Linked DNA regions of Homo sapiens: region 2 is linked to region 1. A link means that fine-mapping ties the variant in region 1 to the expression of a gene that starts in the linked region. Tissue or cell type: subcutaneous fat. Region 1 holds a variant in brackets; the other region holds the start of a gene. All regions are shown on one strand. Distances are between the middles of the regions.

The links. PIP is the estimated chance that this variant, and not a neighbour inherited with it, causes the effect. A credible set is the group of variants that fine-mapping cannot tell apart.
Region 2: it holds the start of IGSF1, and the variant in region 1 is the best candidate, but not a certain one, in a credible set for the expression of IGSF1 in subcutaneous fat (GTEx, PIP 0.57).

Annotation. Positions count from the first base shown.
Region 1 is chrX:131,540,918-131,549,101 of GRCh38, reverse strand. OR13H1 (olfactory receptor family 13 subfamily H member 1) reads right to left here and starts at 5,028. Exons shown (of 1, transcript NM_001004486.1): 1 at 4,102-5,028. The coding sequence starts at 5,028. The coding sequence ends at 4,102. The variant G/C (reference allele first, on the strand shown) is at 4,480.
Region 2 is chrX:131,285,470-131,293,653 of GRCh38, reverse strand. IGSF1 (immunoglobulin superfamily member 1) reads left to right here and starts at 4,348. Exons shown (of 20, transcript NM_001555.5): 1 at 4,348-4,440; 2 at 6,913-7,049; 3 at 7,191-7,217; 4 at 7,606-7,887. The coding sequence starts at 6,980. RefSeq lists an enhancer at 2,152-2,869.

The DNA of each region.
Region 1 (8,184 bases):
GTTCCCTTACCTTTTCTCTCATAGCCCTTCCAAAGGCTTTGTAGGCCCCTAATTCTCTGTGTTAAATGCCTTCCTGAAATAACTATAGAGTAGTTTCTGTTTGCCTGATCGAACTGAGTGCTACACTTTACAGGTGAAGAGACCTAAGCAGGGGGTAACTTGAGTGAAGAAGTGGCAGAAGGAAGGACTGAATCTAACAAGTTTTGCCCCAGGGCTTGTGCTCTAAGTAGTTATACTCCACTGCCTCTCTTCAACTGAAAACCCAAATCCTATAAATGGGGCACTGTATCTTTTTCTGAAATCTCCATGAATATTTCCATGGAAATGATCATTTGGAGCCTGCTTTTCAGTTTGTAAACTTTCTTCTCAACTTTTGACAGAACCATCTTAGTTTCAACACAGTCTTTCCATCTTTCTTTCCAGGGTGAAGCAAGGTAAGCTTCACTACTCAGCCATTGGGGATGGGGAGTAGGGAGGAGTCCAGTGGAAGGTTTCACAGGATCCTTGTGATTGATCAGGCAGAGAAGCACTACTCAATCTCAGGAATTTTCAAAAGCCCAGCATTGATTTCATTTCACAACACCCTCACAGAGTTCATTTTTATCTTTAAAATAAATTAATATCAATGTAAAATTAGATAGCCTCTAGAGTTAGTGCCTAGAAACTGAATGTTAATGCTGGAAGGGCCAGAGCTGTGTTAACTAGCTGCCGTGTTTGCCTTCTTTTTCAGTCAAAGCTAACATTTAAAGTCAGAGAGATAGATCTATATATATTGATCTGGAGGAATGTTCATGATATATTGTCAAGTGGAAAAAGCAAGTTGCAGAGTAAATTGATGATATGCTTGCATTTTTTAAGAAAATAAGAGCAAGCCCTATATAAAATAACACCCGGATGCAGAATGTTAGAACTAGAGAGGTCTTTAGGTAGCTAAACACAATCTTCCTGTTATATTGATAAGCAAGTTTAAAGGCCAGAGAGAGATATAACTAAGGTTACACAGCTTGTTAGTAGCAGAATCAATTCCACAACCTTCATCTCCAGACTCCACTATGTCACTCTGTCTGTAGGCTGTGCCCATACCAACAAGTCAATAAAGGGAGAAAGAACCTAGTGACATAGCTATACTATTTTGTAGTAGAGGGACCATTATTGAAAATGTGCATCCCATTTTAAGCTGTAAACCAACCTGTAATAGAGAGTGAAATATTTTTCCCTCCAAAGGCAGAATCATTAAAACCTATACTCTTAATATTCCACCTAATTTCTGAATTTTCCTCTGTGCGAAGACACTCTTTGATTCTTTTAATATTTCATTGATTGTGCCAGTTTATGTTTATTTCACAATGTTTGCTTGAAAGGTTTATCTTGATAGTAAGGAACATTTTGCACAAAGCATGAGACTTACCCTAATACCTAGCATAGTGCCTGCCTTAAAGTACAAACCTAATGTTTGTTAAATGGATAAATTAAAGATTGAATTCATTTGCCTTTTTCTGAATTTTTTTCTTTCTCAATATTAAAACATTATTTCAGAGATGAAGAGTACCATGTACCTTTAAAAATGTATACAGACACATGCACACATATGTTTATTGTAGCACTATTCACAATAGCAAAGACTTGGAACCAATCCAAAAGTCCAACAATGATAGACTGGATTAAGAAAATGTGGCACTTACACACCATGGAATACTATGCAGCCATAAAAAATGATGAGTTCATGTCCTTTGTAGGGACATGGATGAAATTGGAAATCATTCTCAGTAAACTATCACAAGGACAAAAAACCAAACACCGCATGTTCTCACTCATAGGTGGGAATTGAACAATGAGAACACATGGACACAGGAAGGGGAACATCACACTGTGGGGACTGTTGTGGGGTGGGGGGAGGGGGGAGGGATAGCATTAGGAGATATACCTAATGCTAAATGACGAGTTAATGGGTGCAGCACACCAGCATGGTACATGTATACATATGTAACTAACCTGCACATTGTGCACATGTACCCTAAAACTTAAAGTATAATAATTAAAAAAAAAGTATACGGTTTGAATAAATCTTGCACTTGTTTTGAAATTAAGCTGTTTTGATAAGTAGTTTATTCATCCTCAATTATTTTTCATTTAGTTAGTAAACACGTAAGACAGTCTCCTTGTATCCATGGTACTCCCTTTGCAACACCATACAATGTCTCTTCAGCCCCCCAGCAGTCACAGTAAGAGGAACACACTGAGTATCTGTTTGCTCAGTAGTGCTGGGTACTGTGCATTTTATTTTTTTCTACCTGTTTGTGTCTGGTTCCTCACAAACAGGTAGAAAAGGCTTCTTGGGAGATGACTTCATCATATGTGGTGGAGGCCCAAAGTAAAGTGAGACCAGGAGACAGGATATCTGGGTCTTCGTTCTAGATCTGCTTCCAAACAGTTTCATGATCTTGGGAAATTTACTCCACATTCAGTGAGCCTTAGATTTCTCATCTAAAATCGGTTACCTGTAATAGATCATTGTTTATCAAAACCGTTCCTTTTAGTTTTAGAACTCCCTTTTCAAATGAAATAGCTCACAGGAAACGACCCCCCATTAGCAGGCTCCAGGCACCACAATTGAGTCCCTAAAAACTATATAAATCAAGATTTGAAAAACATTGCATTATGTCCATCAACAGAAAATGGGTTTTAAGATGCGGTAAATGTGTGCAATGAAATATTATTCAGCAATAAAAAGGAACAAATTACGGATACATGCAACAATATAGATGAATCTCAAGAGCAGGCTGAGTGAGAGAACCCAGACACAAAGGAGTACAGACTGCATGATTTTATTTATAGTCAATATTTAAAAAAACAAAAACTAACATATAGTGAAAGAAATCAGATCACTGGTTGGAATTGGGGGTAGAGGGAGGAAGGGATGGGTTACAAGAAGGCAAAAGGAAACTTCTGTAGGTGATGAAATTGTTAGGTAGCTGATTGTTGTGGTGATGCTGTGAGCATCTGTCAAAACTCATAGAATTGCACACTGTAATTGGACAAAGTTTATTGTATACAAATTATGTCATGATAAAGTGGATTAAAATATCACTACATTAGTCATCTCTAGGGTTTCTTATGCCTTTAGATATAGTAAGTGGGATCTGGAATCAACCAGACCTAGATTTAAGTACTGGCTCTGTGGCCATGGGCAAATCACTCAGTTTCCACACTTCTAAATATGGATGGAAAATAGTGCCATGGCATTGAACCACTGTGTGAATTCTATGTGATAATAGATATAGAGAGCTTTGCTCAACCCCTAGCGTATCATAAGTTCTCAATAAATGGTAGCTGTATTTATAATTCTATGATTCTAAATAATTTTACAGACTTACTTTTACAAATTCGGAGGTGGCATATATATGATCTAAATTCTAATTTTGACTCCATTATCAATTATGTATGACTTTAGATGAGTCTCAATGTCTACTCTGTTTCCTCATTGTTAATACAGAGGGAAATTGTGGTGGTGTTTTTACCAATTCCATAGGAAAATTAGGGATATAAAATAGACTAATAGATTAGAAAGATGTTTTGAAAAACAAAAAGCAAAAATAAAACACTCTACACAAATGTAGGAAATAGCTATGATAATTTTTCTCATGATTCCAAGATTAAGTGAAACAAGGAGATTGTGCTTACGTAACAGGGCTTACCCTCAGTAAAGTTGTAAAGTTTCTGACATTTGTCTTCTGGCCTTTTATTATACCATTCTTTGTCTTAGTTTCCAATTTCAGTTATGCCTCACCTGCTGTCAACAGTTACAGAAGATTCTCTTGCTGTATAGGTCTCTTCTGTCAGTGAGAAAATTACTCTGATAAGTTCATTTACCTGAAGGTGAGTAACCTAATGGGTAGCCACTAACAATATTCTATGTAAAGAAAGAGCAAAAATAATACCTCTAATGGCAATTCAAGTCTCAGTAGGAATAATATTTGGGGTGGGAGCACTTCCTGAAGCTTCTCATATGTCAATCACTTCCAAAGATAAAGTCAGATCCTTTAAACCATTTTCTCCATCAGGGACGTTGTGTTATTTTAGACGTTTAGAAGCAAAGAAGGCTCATGTCCTTTTCAACATAACTTTCCTTATTGCCCGTTTAACATCTTTTTTTCTCAGGCTATATATCAGGGGGTTCAACATGGGTGTCAAAGCTCCATAAAACACTGAGATAAACTTGTCCTGGTCAGGGTAGGACTTGGACTGAGTTTTCATATACATGGAGATGGCTGACCCATAGAAGATTGTCACCACGGTCAGGTGAGAGCCACATGTGGTAAAGGCCTTGAGCCTGCCCTGGAGTGAGCGAATCCTTATGATAGCCATAGCAATTCGTATGTAGGAGAGGAGAACAAACCCAAATGGTAGCAGCAGGGTGAAGATACTGGTGATGAGGATCATAAATTCATTGAGGCTGGTATCAGAACAGGTCAGCTTAAT[G/C]AGGGAGAGAATCTCACAGGCAAAATGGTTGATGACATTAGCCCCACAGAAGTGAAGCCTCAGGGATAGGATGAGCATGGCAGTGAGCACAAGTGATGTCCCCCATGAGGTAGCAACCAAGCAGACACATACTGGGCCATTCATAACCACTGAATAACGCAGGGGATTGCTGATAGCAACCACACGGTCATAGGCCATGGCAGCCAGTAGGAGGCACTCTGCTGTGGCCAAAGCCAAGGAGACACTCGTTTGAGCCAAACATCGGGGATAAGAGAGGTAGGGATGGGTAGAGAAACAATGCACCAAAGCCTGGGGCATGGAAGCTGTTCCATAACAAAGGTCTAAGAAAGACAGGTTACTAAGGAAGAAGTAGATTGGAGTGTGGAGGTTGGGGTCAAAGTGAATAAGAAAGATCATAAATCCATTCCCCAACAATGTGCTGAGGTAAATTATCAGCACTAATGTGAAAAACGTGTCTCTCCATTGAGGATAGTTAGAAATGCCAATAAGGAGAAACTGAAACACTGCTGTGACATTGTCCATGGCCATCTTTCCCTCTTGCCACTATTCATTAAATGGATGCCAATTGGCTACTTAGTGTTACCTGAAAGAATGGGAATAAAGATGGAGGGTGTGAGAAAGGTGGAAAGAATTAGGGTGTGCAGGATCATTATCTTTGTCCTTTTCAGAAGAATGGGACACAAATGGAATAGATATCTATAATGGGAACAGAGGCAAAGCTAGATATCCTCCCTCAATCCTAAGAAAATGGAAAGTTCCTTATCTTTTTGAAAATAGTTATATGAAAATTTCTCCAGCCCTCCTCCACTAGAGGTCTTCTTGAATAATTTTTCCTAACTAAGAAGACAGGAAAGGTAGGCCATCTTCCTGACTTTCTCACGTCATTTTCCAAGATAAATCTGATATGTAGACATGGTTGAATCTCAGTTAGCTTGAGTTATTAATCTCAACCAACAGGGTACCTTCTGACACATGTCTTAGCTAAAATATTGTCTATGTTTGGGATGTCTCTCACTCCTAGATTGTGCATGCCTTCATTTTTCCATAGTTCCAGAATTTACCACGGTGCCTGACATAGAGTGGGTGCAAGGTAGCTCTTTGACCTGAGCTGATATTATGTAGATGTAGTAGTGAGGTCTGGGAGGACCCTCTTCTAATATCCCCTGCTGAAGTTACATTTCTAGCTTCTCCTACATTTTCTATTCTGTTGTCGTTGAGCCCCAGTTAGGAGTATGAAAACTGAACATGAAGTTTCTAAAAGTGTGGGTGGTAAGGAGAGGGTCTGAGTACGTAGCCTCACTGAAAAGGCTCTCTTATCCCATCCTCACCCATCTCTTTCCCCTAGCCCTGCTTCATTTTTTATAACACATTCTAATACCTGAAGTTATATTAATAATTTGATTACTTGCTTATTATTTGTCTTTCACTCAAATGTGAATTTAATAACAGGGCCCTTGTCTGCTGTTTACTGGTGTATTCCTAGAACATAGAACAGTACCTGGGGGATCACAAGAACCCAATAGGTAGTAAATGAATATATAAAGTCCTAAGCATTCAGAGCTGTTATTCAGAATCTACCTACTCCTCTTGCCACCTGCACTGCCATTCTTTATTCCAAGGCATCATCATCATTCACCTGGATTTTTCCAGTAACTTCGTCATTGGTTTTCCTGTTTCTAGTCTTCTTCCCATCCAGTTCAGATGATTCAGTTGAACTGTAAGTGAAATCAGGTCACTCTTCCATTAAAAAATTTATTCTATTTTTATTGAGGTATGACTGATATACAAAAAGGTACACATATTTTATGTATACATCTTGAGTTTGAAGATAAGTATATACTCATGAAACGGCCACCATAAATAATGCCGTAAATATAACAAACATCCCTAAAAGTTTCCTCCTTCTCTCTTTTATCTTTGTAATAAGAACACTTAACATAAGACCTACTCTCTTAATAAAATTTTAAGTATACAGTATCATATTGTTAACTATAGATTCTCATTTCAGCCTCTCTAAACACCAATCTCCTTACTATGACCTACGAGGCCCTATATGGTTTGCCTCCCAATCACCTCCTCTCTGAACGCATCTCCTACCACCCTTTCCCTTGCTCACTTTGCTCCAGTCACACTAGCCTCCTCACCATTCCTCAAATACTCAAAGCCCATCCCTTTCACAGAGCCTTTGATCCTGCTGTTCTATATTTGTAAAAACTTTCTGCTCCATATTTATGAAACCCAGATCCTTGCACAGCTCACCTTCTCAATTCCCTCAGGTTTTTACTTACAAGGCATCTTTTCAGTGTATCCTTCCTGGGTCACGTCATCTAGGAATTCATCTCCAGCCCCTGAAATTGCATTACATCCTTTCTGGGTCACCTCGTCTGGGAGTTCATTTCTAGCCATTGAAATTTTATATCCCCCTTTCCTGCATTATTTTCTCCTTAGAACTACATCTAGCATACTGTATAGCTTATCTATTAATTATGTTTATTGCTTGTCTCTATCAACTAGAATGTATGCTCAGTGAGGTCAGGGTTTTTCTGTTTTCTTCATTGCTGTGTGCCCAAAATATAGAATAGTACCTAGATAGGAGCTCAATAATTATTTGCTGAAGGAATGTGTGAATGGAGTTCTTTTGCTGTTCCTTATTGAAAGGCAACCTCTCTTTTTCCATCTGCCTCTTCCCTTGACATTACTGTTTCTATGCTAAGCACCCCTTTGATGTATATGTGTTTCTCCATGAGACTAACTCCCATTTTCTTTCTAATCCCCTCCTTGCAGCTTCCGCTACTCACTTGCTATGTCTCTAGACAAGTTTCTTCCCCTTACGTGCCTGAATTTTTATTTCCAATCTTGTTAAACTAAATTATCTCTAAGGTCCCGTCTAGTTTTAACAAGCTAGGATTCTCGACTTCCCTCAGATAAAGAAAAAAAGAACTCACTCCGCAGAGTATTGAAATGTGTTACATTTTTCTCCTTTGTTGGAGAGACATGTAGGCTACAGAAGCGGTTTTCTAAGAAATGAAGTATCCCTAATCATCTCTGAAATGGGAAACTCTCTCACTTGTCTTGTCCTAAAAAGTATCTTTTTTTTTTTTTTTTTTTAGATAGATTCTCACTCTGTCACCCAGGCTGGAGTGCAGTGGCGCAGTCTTGGCTCACTGCAACCTCCGTCTCCTGGGTTCCAGTGATTCTCCTGCCTCAGCCTCCCAAGCAGCTGGGATTACAGGTGCCCGACACCATGCCCAGCTAATTTTTGTATTTTTAGTAGAGACGGGATTTCACCATGTTGGCCAGGCTGGTCTCAAACTCCTGACCTCAGGTGATCCGCCCGCCTCAGCCTCCCAAAGTGCTGGGATTACAGGCGTAAGACACGGCTCCTGGCCCTTAAAAGTCTTTAAGAAAGAAAATTTCCTAACGTTTCCCTTCCATGTCATGGCCTTCTAGTAAGCTATCCCTGTGTCACATTGTCTACCTTTTTCAGCCTATCAGATAGGCTAGGTGCACAACAAAGGTAAATCCATATATCCAGGAAAGTGTTTGCTATTTGTGAAGAGGGAAACAAATGTAAGGGATGGAGAGGGTGGTGGTGACCTGGCTTCACAGGAGTGCCCTCAGAGCTTGAGAGACCTAACGCTGCCGCTGTCTTCATTTATCATAGGACCCCGAGAAAGAGATTTT
Region 2 (8,184 bases), 260 kb after region 1:
GGGAGGGAGAAAATGAAAACAGCAAGATAATAATTAAGCATGAGTTGGATAGGGAGACATTGAAATATGATAGATTAAGAAAAAAAATAATTTGTATTGTCTACCTGAAAGCAATCAATTATATGAACTTAACAGACTTTTATGGAGAAAGTATTTCCTCATCTTCTGTCAAGGGTACATGAATCTTTCAGAAAGTCTGACCATATCCTAGATCACAAAACAAGTAGAATTGGAAGAGATGCATGTATATTTAAATAATTGCCTGTAAACTGATGTTTTTAGGAACAGATTATAAACAGTTGGTAATATTGCAATGATGAGTTTTTAAATTGCTAATTTGTGTTGCTCTTGCAGTTTAGCCATCTTTACTTAATTTTAATCATATAATTGTTTAATCATACAATACGTAGGAATAAAAGAACCAAATTATTGACTTCTATAGTTTCCTTTGGACAAGTGATTACGAGTAAATAAATATTAGAGAGACCAGTTGTGCCTTCCCAAGCGGCATTCCCCCCTCCCCCCCCATCCCCCCACCACAACACACCCATTCCCACCCCTGCCCCACCATGCAAATGCCTACAATTTGGACACACTGGGGGCAAGTCAGACTCTGAGACAGAAAAAGGCTTTCCTGGCACTGGTATCTGGAAGCATCCTTCCTGGATCAGGCCTAAACTGCTTATAGAACCTGTGCCTGCCTGCTCTAGGCAGTGAGGCTGAGCCTACCTCCTTTCATTCTGGAGCCACCAACTTCATCCAACACAGGAAAAGGGAATACTGAAACACTTTGAAGCCCACTTTCGGAGCTCTCCTGCATTTTGGATATCTGTCTCTGAACACCCTCCCCCACCATGTACTCAGATACACACTGTTCCTCGTATAAACAAAAGCCATATTGTGATGCTAAGAGAATTGTCATTTGGAGACAGTGGACTAGTAGATTACCTTTTTTGGTAAATGGTACATAAACCAAAAAGAACTTTGTGATTCTGCTAACACTGAAACACACACACAAAAATCCTCATTTTCTCCCTCCACCCATTAAACTTGTTAAAATCACCTAGGTATTCACATTGTTGGTTTGCTTTGTGACAAGCACCCAGAAGCCTGATCATCCAGGCCTCTATCTAATGTCTAATGCCCCACTATGAGTGTTTTGATTAAATAAGTTTTAGTTCTAATTCATCACTTGAATTTGGTTTATTCTAGGAAGCTTCCTGCACACTCCTGAAAATGCCCTCAGTTATAGCTTCTGGAAATGACTTAGTGCCCCAAACTCTGCCCTTAATAATTAAAGTGCTTGACAAAAGATAAGTTGAAATTCAAGCTCTGTGAGTTGGCCCCAGCTTTCCTTTGCAGCTTTGACCTCCCCACCTCCAAAGCCTAACCCCCTCCTCATCAGGTCTTGCCGTTGGAACCTAATCTGTCTGGTTGGACCTCCTCCCTGCCCCAGAACGCCACTTGCTTAGTCCCAGCTGAGTTCCTCACTGGTATACTCCACATTGCTTCTCCATTGCAGAAAGGGATGGGGCCTGGGACTGGCTGAGGAGTGGGGTGGGATGCTAAAACACACAGTCAAACTTTGAATGCACAGACCTCTCCAGAGATCTGACACAGTCCTCAGATGGCTTACTAGAGTAGTGAGGTTGGGGACAGGGGAATGGAGCACAGTGCTCATAACTTTCTTGAGAGTGTATGAAACTTAACAGGATCCTTGAGCAGTTTGGAAACCTTCCTGTTTCCCAGTAAAAATCACTGTCCTAAAACATAAAACTGGAAAAAAAGTGGTTTGCTAGTAAATGTTTAAAAACAGCTCCAGAGATGTGAAGGTTGCTGGGAGAAACTTGATTTGTAGCATTTACTTCTTCAGTTGTGAAAATTCCCTGACTGTGGTGAAAATTCTCTGACCATGGCCACTTTCAAGCTACTACCATTATGTCATTGAATGCTGGGATGAGATAAGATGTGCACATTGGGTTCTCCTGAACCATACAGAGCTAGCCAACATCAGTACAACACTGGGAAGGGATCAGGTTTGCCCTGGGCTTCTCCTGTTTGGGATATATAAAACAGAGTTAGGTTTAAAAAATATCATCATCTTACATTAGACTCGCTTATGGAGAAAGGCTTCCCACAACACCCTGTGAACCTTGGTGCTTCACCTCTATCCTTCAAGCTCCACTTTCTTGAAGCTCTTCTATACTGTAAATGTTTTGAAAATTGGCATGGATGTTTTCACCCTGACAGATAATAACTATTACTGTTGTCTTCCAAACAACCATCAAGTTTGTCTAATGTTGCCTTCTCAATGTTTTGGGAACTCTGACCCTCCCCTCCTTCTCTGCTACTGCTCCCTAGTTTAGGCACACAGTACAAGCAAAGTGCTTGCAATTATCCAAACACATACTATCATGACTTACTTGATGATCTTTTCTATTGCAATCCTCTTTGATTCTCAAGGCTCCTCCTTCTCTGGCTGCCTCCTACTTCTTCTCTAGTATGATTTATCCTTAGACTACAAACTCCTTAAGAAGAGAAACTGTCATCCTTTCTGAACTGTCAGCATCTAGAACAATCCCTGACACAAAGAAAGTACTTAACATTTGTGTTGAATCAATGGCTGCTTGCTGTGTCCTAGGTGCTATGTGGTGGCTTACAGGAAGGTTTCCATTCAATCCTACCCCAAACCCTTCATTGTAGTAAGTGCAATTATTATCCCCATTTTACAAATAAGAAAACTGAGGCTTGGAGGCTAAATAACTTGCCCAGAAACACATCTTTTTATTCATATGCCTATTCTATTCATTACACAATAATCTATAGTTTATAATGGAAGCCACAATTGATATCACCTGATGCATGAAGATATGATAATCAATTTGGCTGTAAAAGAGCTGTTACTTTATTTTTACACAGTTTGTTCTTGAATTAAAGTGTTTTTCATTAGATAATTTGAAATCTTTTATGCAGGTAGAAAATGTACATAAAAGGCTGGGCATGGTAGCTCACGCCTGTAATCCCAGCAGTTTAGGAGGCTGAGCCTCCAGACCAGCTTGGCCAACATGGTGGGACCCCGTCTCTACTAAAAAATACAAAAACTAGCTGGGTGTGGTGGTGCGCGCCTATAATCCTAGCTACTCGGGAGGCTGAAGCAGGAGAATTGCTTGAACCTGGGAGGTGGAGGTTGCAGTGAGCCAAGATCGCACCACTGCACGCCAGCCTGGGCGACAGAGTGAGACTGTCTTAAAAAAAAGGAAATGTACATAAAGAAAAATTTGTCTATTTTTTAGCCAATTAGTCTATCATGTTGATATTTCTTATCAATTAGTCTGTGAGCCCATTGGATGCTATACTTTAATCTCATCATATGTTATATATCAGGAGCTTTGATTAGTGTCTTATTCATACATTATCATTATAAAAAGTCTTTCATAATCAACATTTGTGAAAGGTTGCTCTATATTATTAAAATCATGTTACTCTAAGACATTTGGGGAAGGGCTTACAGATTAATAGTAGTAGTAGTAGTGGTAGCAGCAGCAACCACTACCATTTATTGAGCACCTACTACATGCTAGGCCTATTGTGCTGTTAGTTTTACTTACATCATCCCATTGAGGCCTTGTGAAATAGGTTCTGCTGTTTTTTGTTTGTTTGTTTGTTTTTTACTTTACTGTTGGGGAACCTGGGACTCAGAGAGTTTACTCACTTGCTTGAGGTCACACAACTATTGAATGTAAAATGTGGACTAAAATATACATTTGTATGTCTCTAAAGCCTGGGCTTTTACCCCAAGATGGACTTTGAAGGCTGTCCAAGTTACTTAACCCTCTCTGAGTTTCCGTTTCCTCATCTGTAAAACTGAGGGGAGTAACACTTATTTTGCAGAGTTGCTCTGAAGATGAGAAATAATGGATCCCAGGGCCCAGGGGCACACAGTAGGCACTTAAACTGTGGTGATGTTTATGCATAAATGGGGCGTTAAAATGGGCAGGGGAAGATCTGAGATCCCGATAAAGGTATTGGGGAGCTGGAGAGAAGGATCTACAAATCTTCTTGAGAGCTGGCCTTCTCCCCCCCACAATACAGTGACCCAGTGAAACTCTGAGAGACAGGCGAGGGGGCAGGGGCCTGAATTTGGCTCCAGCAACCTCTGCAGGGAGTCCGGAGAGAGGCGGGGAGCTGGGAGGGGCGTAGAAATCCCCGTCGTCAGAGGACTGCAGGTGCCAGGCAGAGTTGGTGTAGGTGGGCTCCCCGAGCCCGGCGCAGGGAGGGGAGGAGGTTGGGGCGGGCCGGCAGGCGGGCGGGGGAGAGAGGAAGGCGGGGCTCAGAGCCGAAGAGGCTGTCCTTAGACAGCTCTTCTCATGCCGGGCAGTTTGCTGCATCTGGAGGAGCTCACTGGAGAATCTCCAACATCGGAGCGGGCCTTCAACTACCGTAAGTACCTACAAATGAGCGCATAGTTCAGTGGCTGAATATTAAATACTGGCCACCGGATCCTAAACAAAACCCCGAAAGAGTCTCCTTGCTGTAATTAATTGCCGTAAATCAAACTGCTCCCCAGTCTGTCCCCCCACCCGCTTCATTCCTGCCTTTCTCCTTTCCTTCCCGGATCCCAGACCTGCCTCGGTGAGAATCTCTGGGCACTGTAGATATCTCCCCTTTTCCTTCTCAGTCTTCCCTCCAAACCCTCAGCTGAGCATGTACCCGGCACCCCGCCGAGCCCAACCCCTTTGATTCCTGGAGCCCTCAAAGCTATGCAGGGGGCGAGCCATTAGACATTTCAGATATGTCACCCTCAAAAGCACTGCGGCGCTGCCTAAGGGTGGGGAAAGTGCTTGGGGTGGAGTAGGAGGGAAGGGTAAAACGGCTAGGCAGCCAAAGTTGGGGGTGGGGGTGGGGTGAAAGGCCAAAATGGGCGTGGCCAACTAACCCAAGGCTTGGGGCTGTTCTCATGTTCCCCCGGTATAAGATTCATCATCTGGGCTGAATATAAATGGTACAATTTCCTTAGTGATTGAGGAGGGGTCAGCCATGCCAAAAAGCCCAGCTTCCCTGACTCCCCTCAATCCCCCAGTAGGCAAAGATCCTGGTTTAGGGGTCCAAGTGGCAAGGCTGAAACCTCAGATGGCATTTCCTGGGTGTAATCCCAGGTTGAACCTCTCCCTTGGCAGTGGAACCTGGCTTCCCCCAAAAACTCCTGGCCCAAAGCCCCAGGGTAACAAAGCAACAGGGTAGCATCCAAGCTTTGGCCTGGCCCTGAGAGGAGTGGGAGCAAGGGACTGTAGGAACTGAGATGGAAAGGGCATCTTTAGGGCCCTACACCAGTTGGATGCCCCCTTTGAAAAGAAGAAAAAATAAGCATCTTTTTAAAATGTAATGTTCACTATGTGCCTGGCACTGTACATGTATTATCTCTAACCCAACACAACAATAATGTTAGGTCGATATTACTCCTCCACTTTACAGATAAGGAAAATTCAGAGTGGGTAATCTGAAAATCCTTTGATACAAAGTGAAAAATGTACAATGGACCTATGCTTCCTTGGATTTCTCACTGTCCACTTGTTCCCTACAGTCCAGATATTTTGAACACGAAATATCCTCCTCTTCCTGCTCCTCCATCCTACCCAGTGTTAGCACTGGGGCAAGTTTGAGGCTGAGGTCCAAGGTCAGTCTGGAAAAGCAAAATCAGTTCCTTTCTCTATTCTGGGAGCTGCCTCTTCCCCACTCTTCTGAGCTAAGATTTAATAACAGCTGGAGTCAGCCAGGACTTCAGACTCCCAGTAGAAAGTTGGTGGAAGAGAATTAGCTTGAGTTTGCGTGGCTGGGACATACCTTCCCTTGGTGAAAGGTTACTGTGGGGGGAGGTGGAGAGAGGCATGAAAGCTCAAGAGTCTACCTTGTGTATATGCAAGGCCTATGGTAAATAATGACTTTGGTCAGGGAGAATGGAAAGCCTCCCTGAACTCAAATATCTTTGCCGTATTTCCTGAGATTCAAACAATTCCATTTCCCTTAGAGGCAATCAACAAAACTGTTTAGAAGTTAAGGGCAACGAAAGAATCATTTAGACCTTATGTAAATTAACTCAAGCAGCTTGATTTTCTAACACATGCTTGACACTGGGGTATTGAGCTTTTAGGGGTAGGAGACAAGAATGAGAGTAATATTGGATCTAAAGCATTCTATGGAAGGGAAGGATATCCAAGGGATCAAGTGAGAGGGGTAAGGGAGGGTGAAGAGGGAGTGAAGGGTACCTCTGGGAGTTTAAATCATTGTTTTAGATCCATAGGCCTTGGAGTTAAACATGGATTCTAATTTGGGCTCTAATATTTAATATCTTTTGACTTTGGGCAAATTATATAACCTCTCTAAGCCTCAGTTTGTTCATCAGTAAAATGGGGATGGTAGTAATGCCCCCTCTCTTAAGTTGTTGGAGGACTCTCTCTCTCTCTCTATATATATATATACACACACACACACATATATACGTATATATATACACACATATATACGTATATATACACACATATATATACATGTATATACACATATATATACGTATATAAACATACGTATATATATATATATGCATATCTGAAAAGGTGACTCTGCACCTCCCATCTCCCCCATCCTGTGGAGCTTCTGCAGGCTATTCTGGGCTTCTGAGATCCCAGAGACAAATCCATATTTCAACAAATCTGACATCTTTGATACCAACAAAGACCTTGAGCAGGATAGGGAAGTGAGGGAAAGGAGCAAGGAGAGGAAGCAGCAGGTGACCTTGTAATACCCTGCATGCCTGTGAGGAAGTACAATGTAGGGTTGTCAAGTGCAATTTAGCCATCTAAACTAAACTTTAAGGAGCAGGACAAGTCCTCTGAGTAAAAACAATTCTGCTTTTAGATCCCACCACCTGCTGAGGAGAAAAATTCTTCAAGACTCAGAGCACACAGCCAGCACCAGAGGCCCCATGACCCTGGACAGACCAGGGGAGGGGGCCACCATGCTGAAGACATTCACTGTTTTGCTCTTTTGCATTCGTGAGTACAAGGAAGGGGTGAGGGGCAAGTGACCCTGTCATAGGTACCCACTCATTAGGGGTGGGAGAGGAAAGTATTGAGGTTTGAGCACAGGATGGAGACAACAAGGGAGCTCTCCTTTACCATAATCTCTCTTTTCAGGGATGAGTCTGGGTATGACATCAATAGGTAAGTGAGTCCTGCCCTCTCAGGCACCTCCTTCCTAAAGGATCCAAGATGCTGGCGTGTCTCCATGACCTTGGACATAATGCCTTGAGATTCCAGAGATAGATTGGGCTGATTGGGAATCAGAGGACTTGGTTTCCTATGGCATGGTGAAAAAGCTTTATCTCAGATGGAAAAGAGACCATCAGACTTTATTCTCCAATTCATTTGGACCCCTTGACAAAATATCTTGGGGTTCTTATACGATGCCCCACAGGAGCACACTCCTGTCCCCAAGGGAAGACAAAATGAGGGATCTGGGTCCGGGCTAATTTTAAGGGACATTGTGGGACATGTTATGGGAGGGAGAGGGTTGGACTGCTCATATCTTTTTGATCTTTGGGAATAACAGTGATGGACCCTCAACCAGAGTTGTGGATAGAGTCCAACTACCCCCAGGCCCCTTGGGAGAACATCACGCTTTGGTGCCGAAGCCCCTCTCGGATATCAAGCAAGTTCCTGCTGCTGAAGGATAAGACACAGATGACCTGGATCCGCCCTTCCCACAAGACCTTCCAAGTTTCATTCCTTATAGGTGCCCTTACTGAGTCCAATGCAGGTCTTTACCGGTGCTGCTACTGGAAGGAGACAGGCTGGTCAAAGCCCAGTAAAGTTCTAGAGTTGGAGGCACCAGGTAAGATGACAGTGATACTCAAGAATCAACTCCAGCTCCTGAGATTCAAACTTGCCTTCCAGGGGAGAGTTTGTTTCACAAATGCATGCAAGCATGCATCCCACAGTTAGTAAATAAGGGCCTACTTTGTATTGGGCAATGCAGAGGGGGGATGCAGACTCTGGAGCAGAGATAGGAGAAGGAGGGGTGGCAAACAAGGATCATACAGGGAAACCTCAATTAAAGTAGAGCTCTCCTCTGCTGCTCCCTAGACAGTACTATCCTTGCTTTACCTAATTCCAGTTCATTCTATCCTTC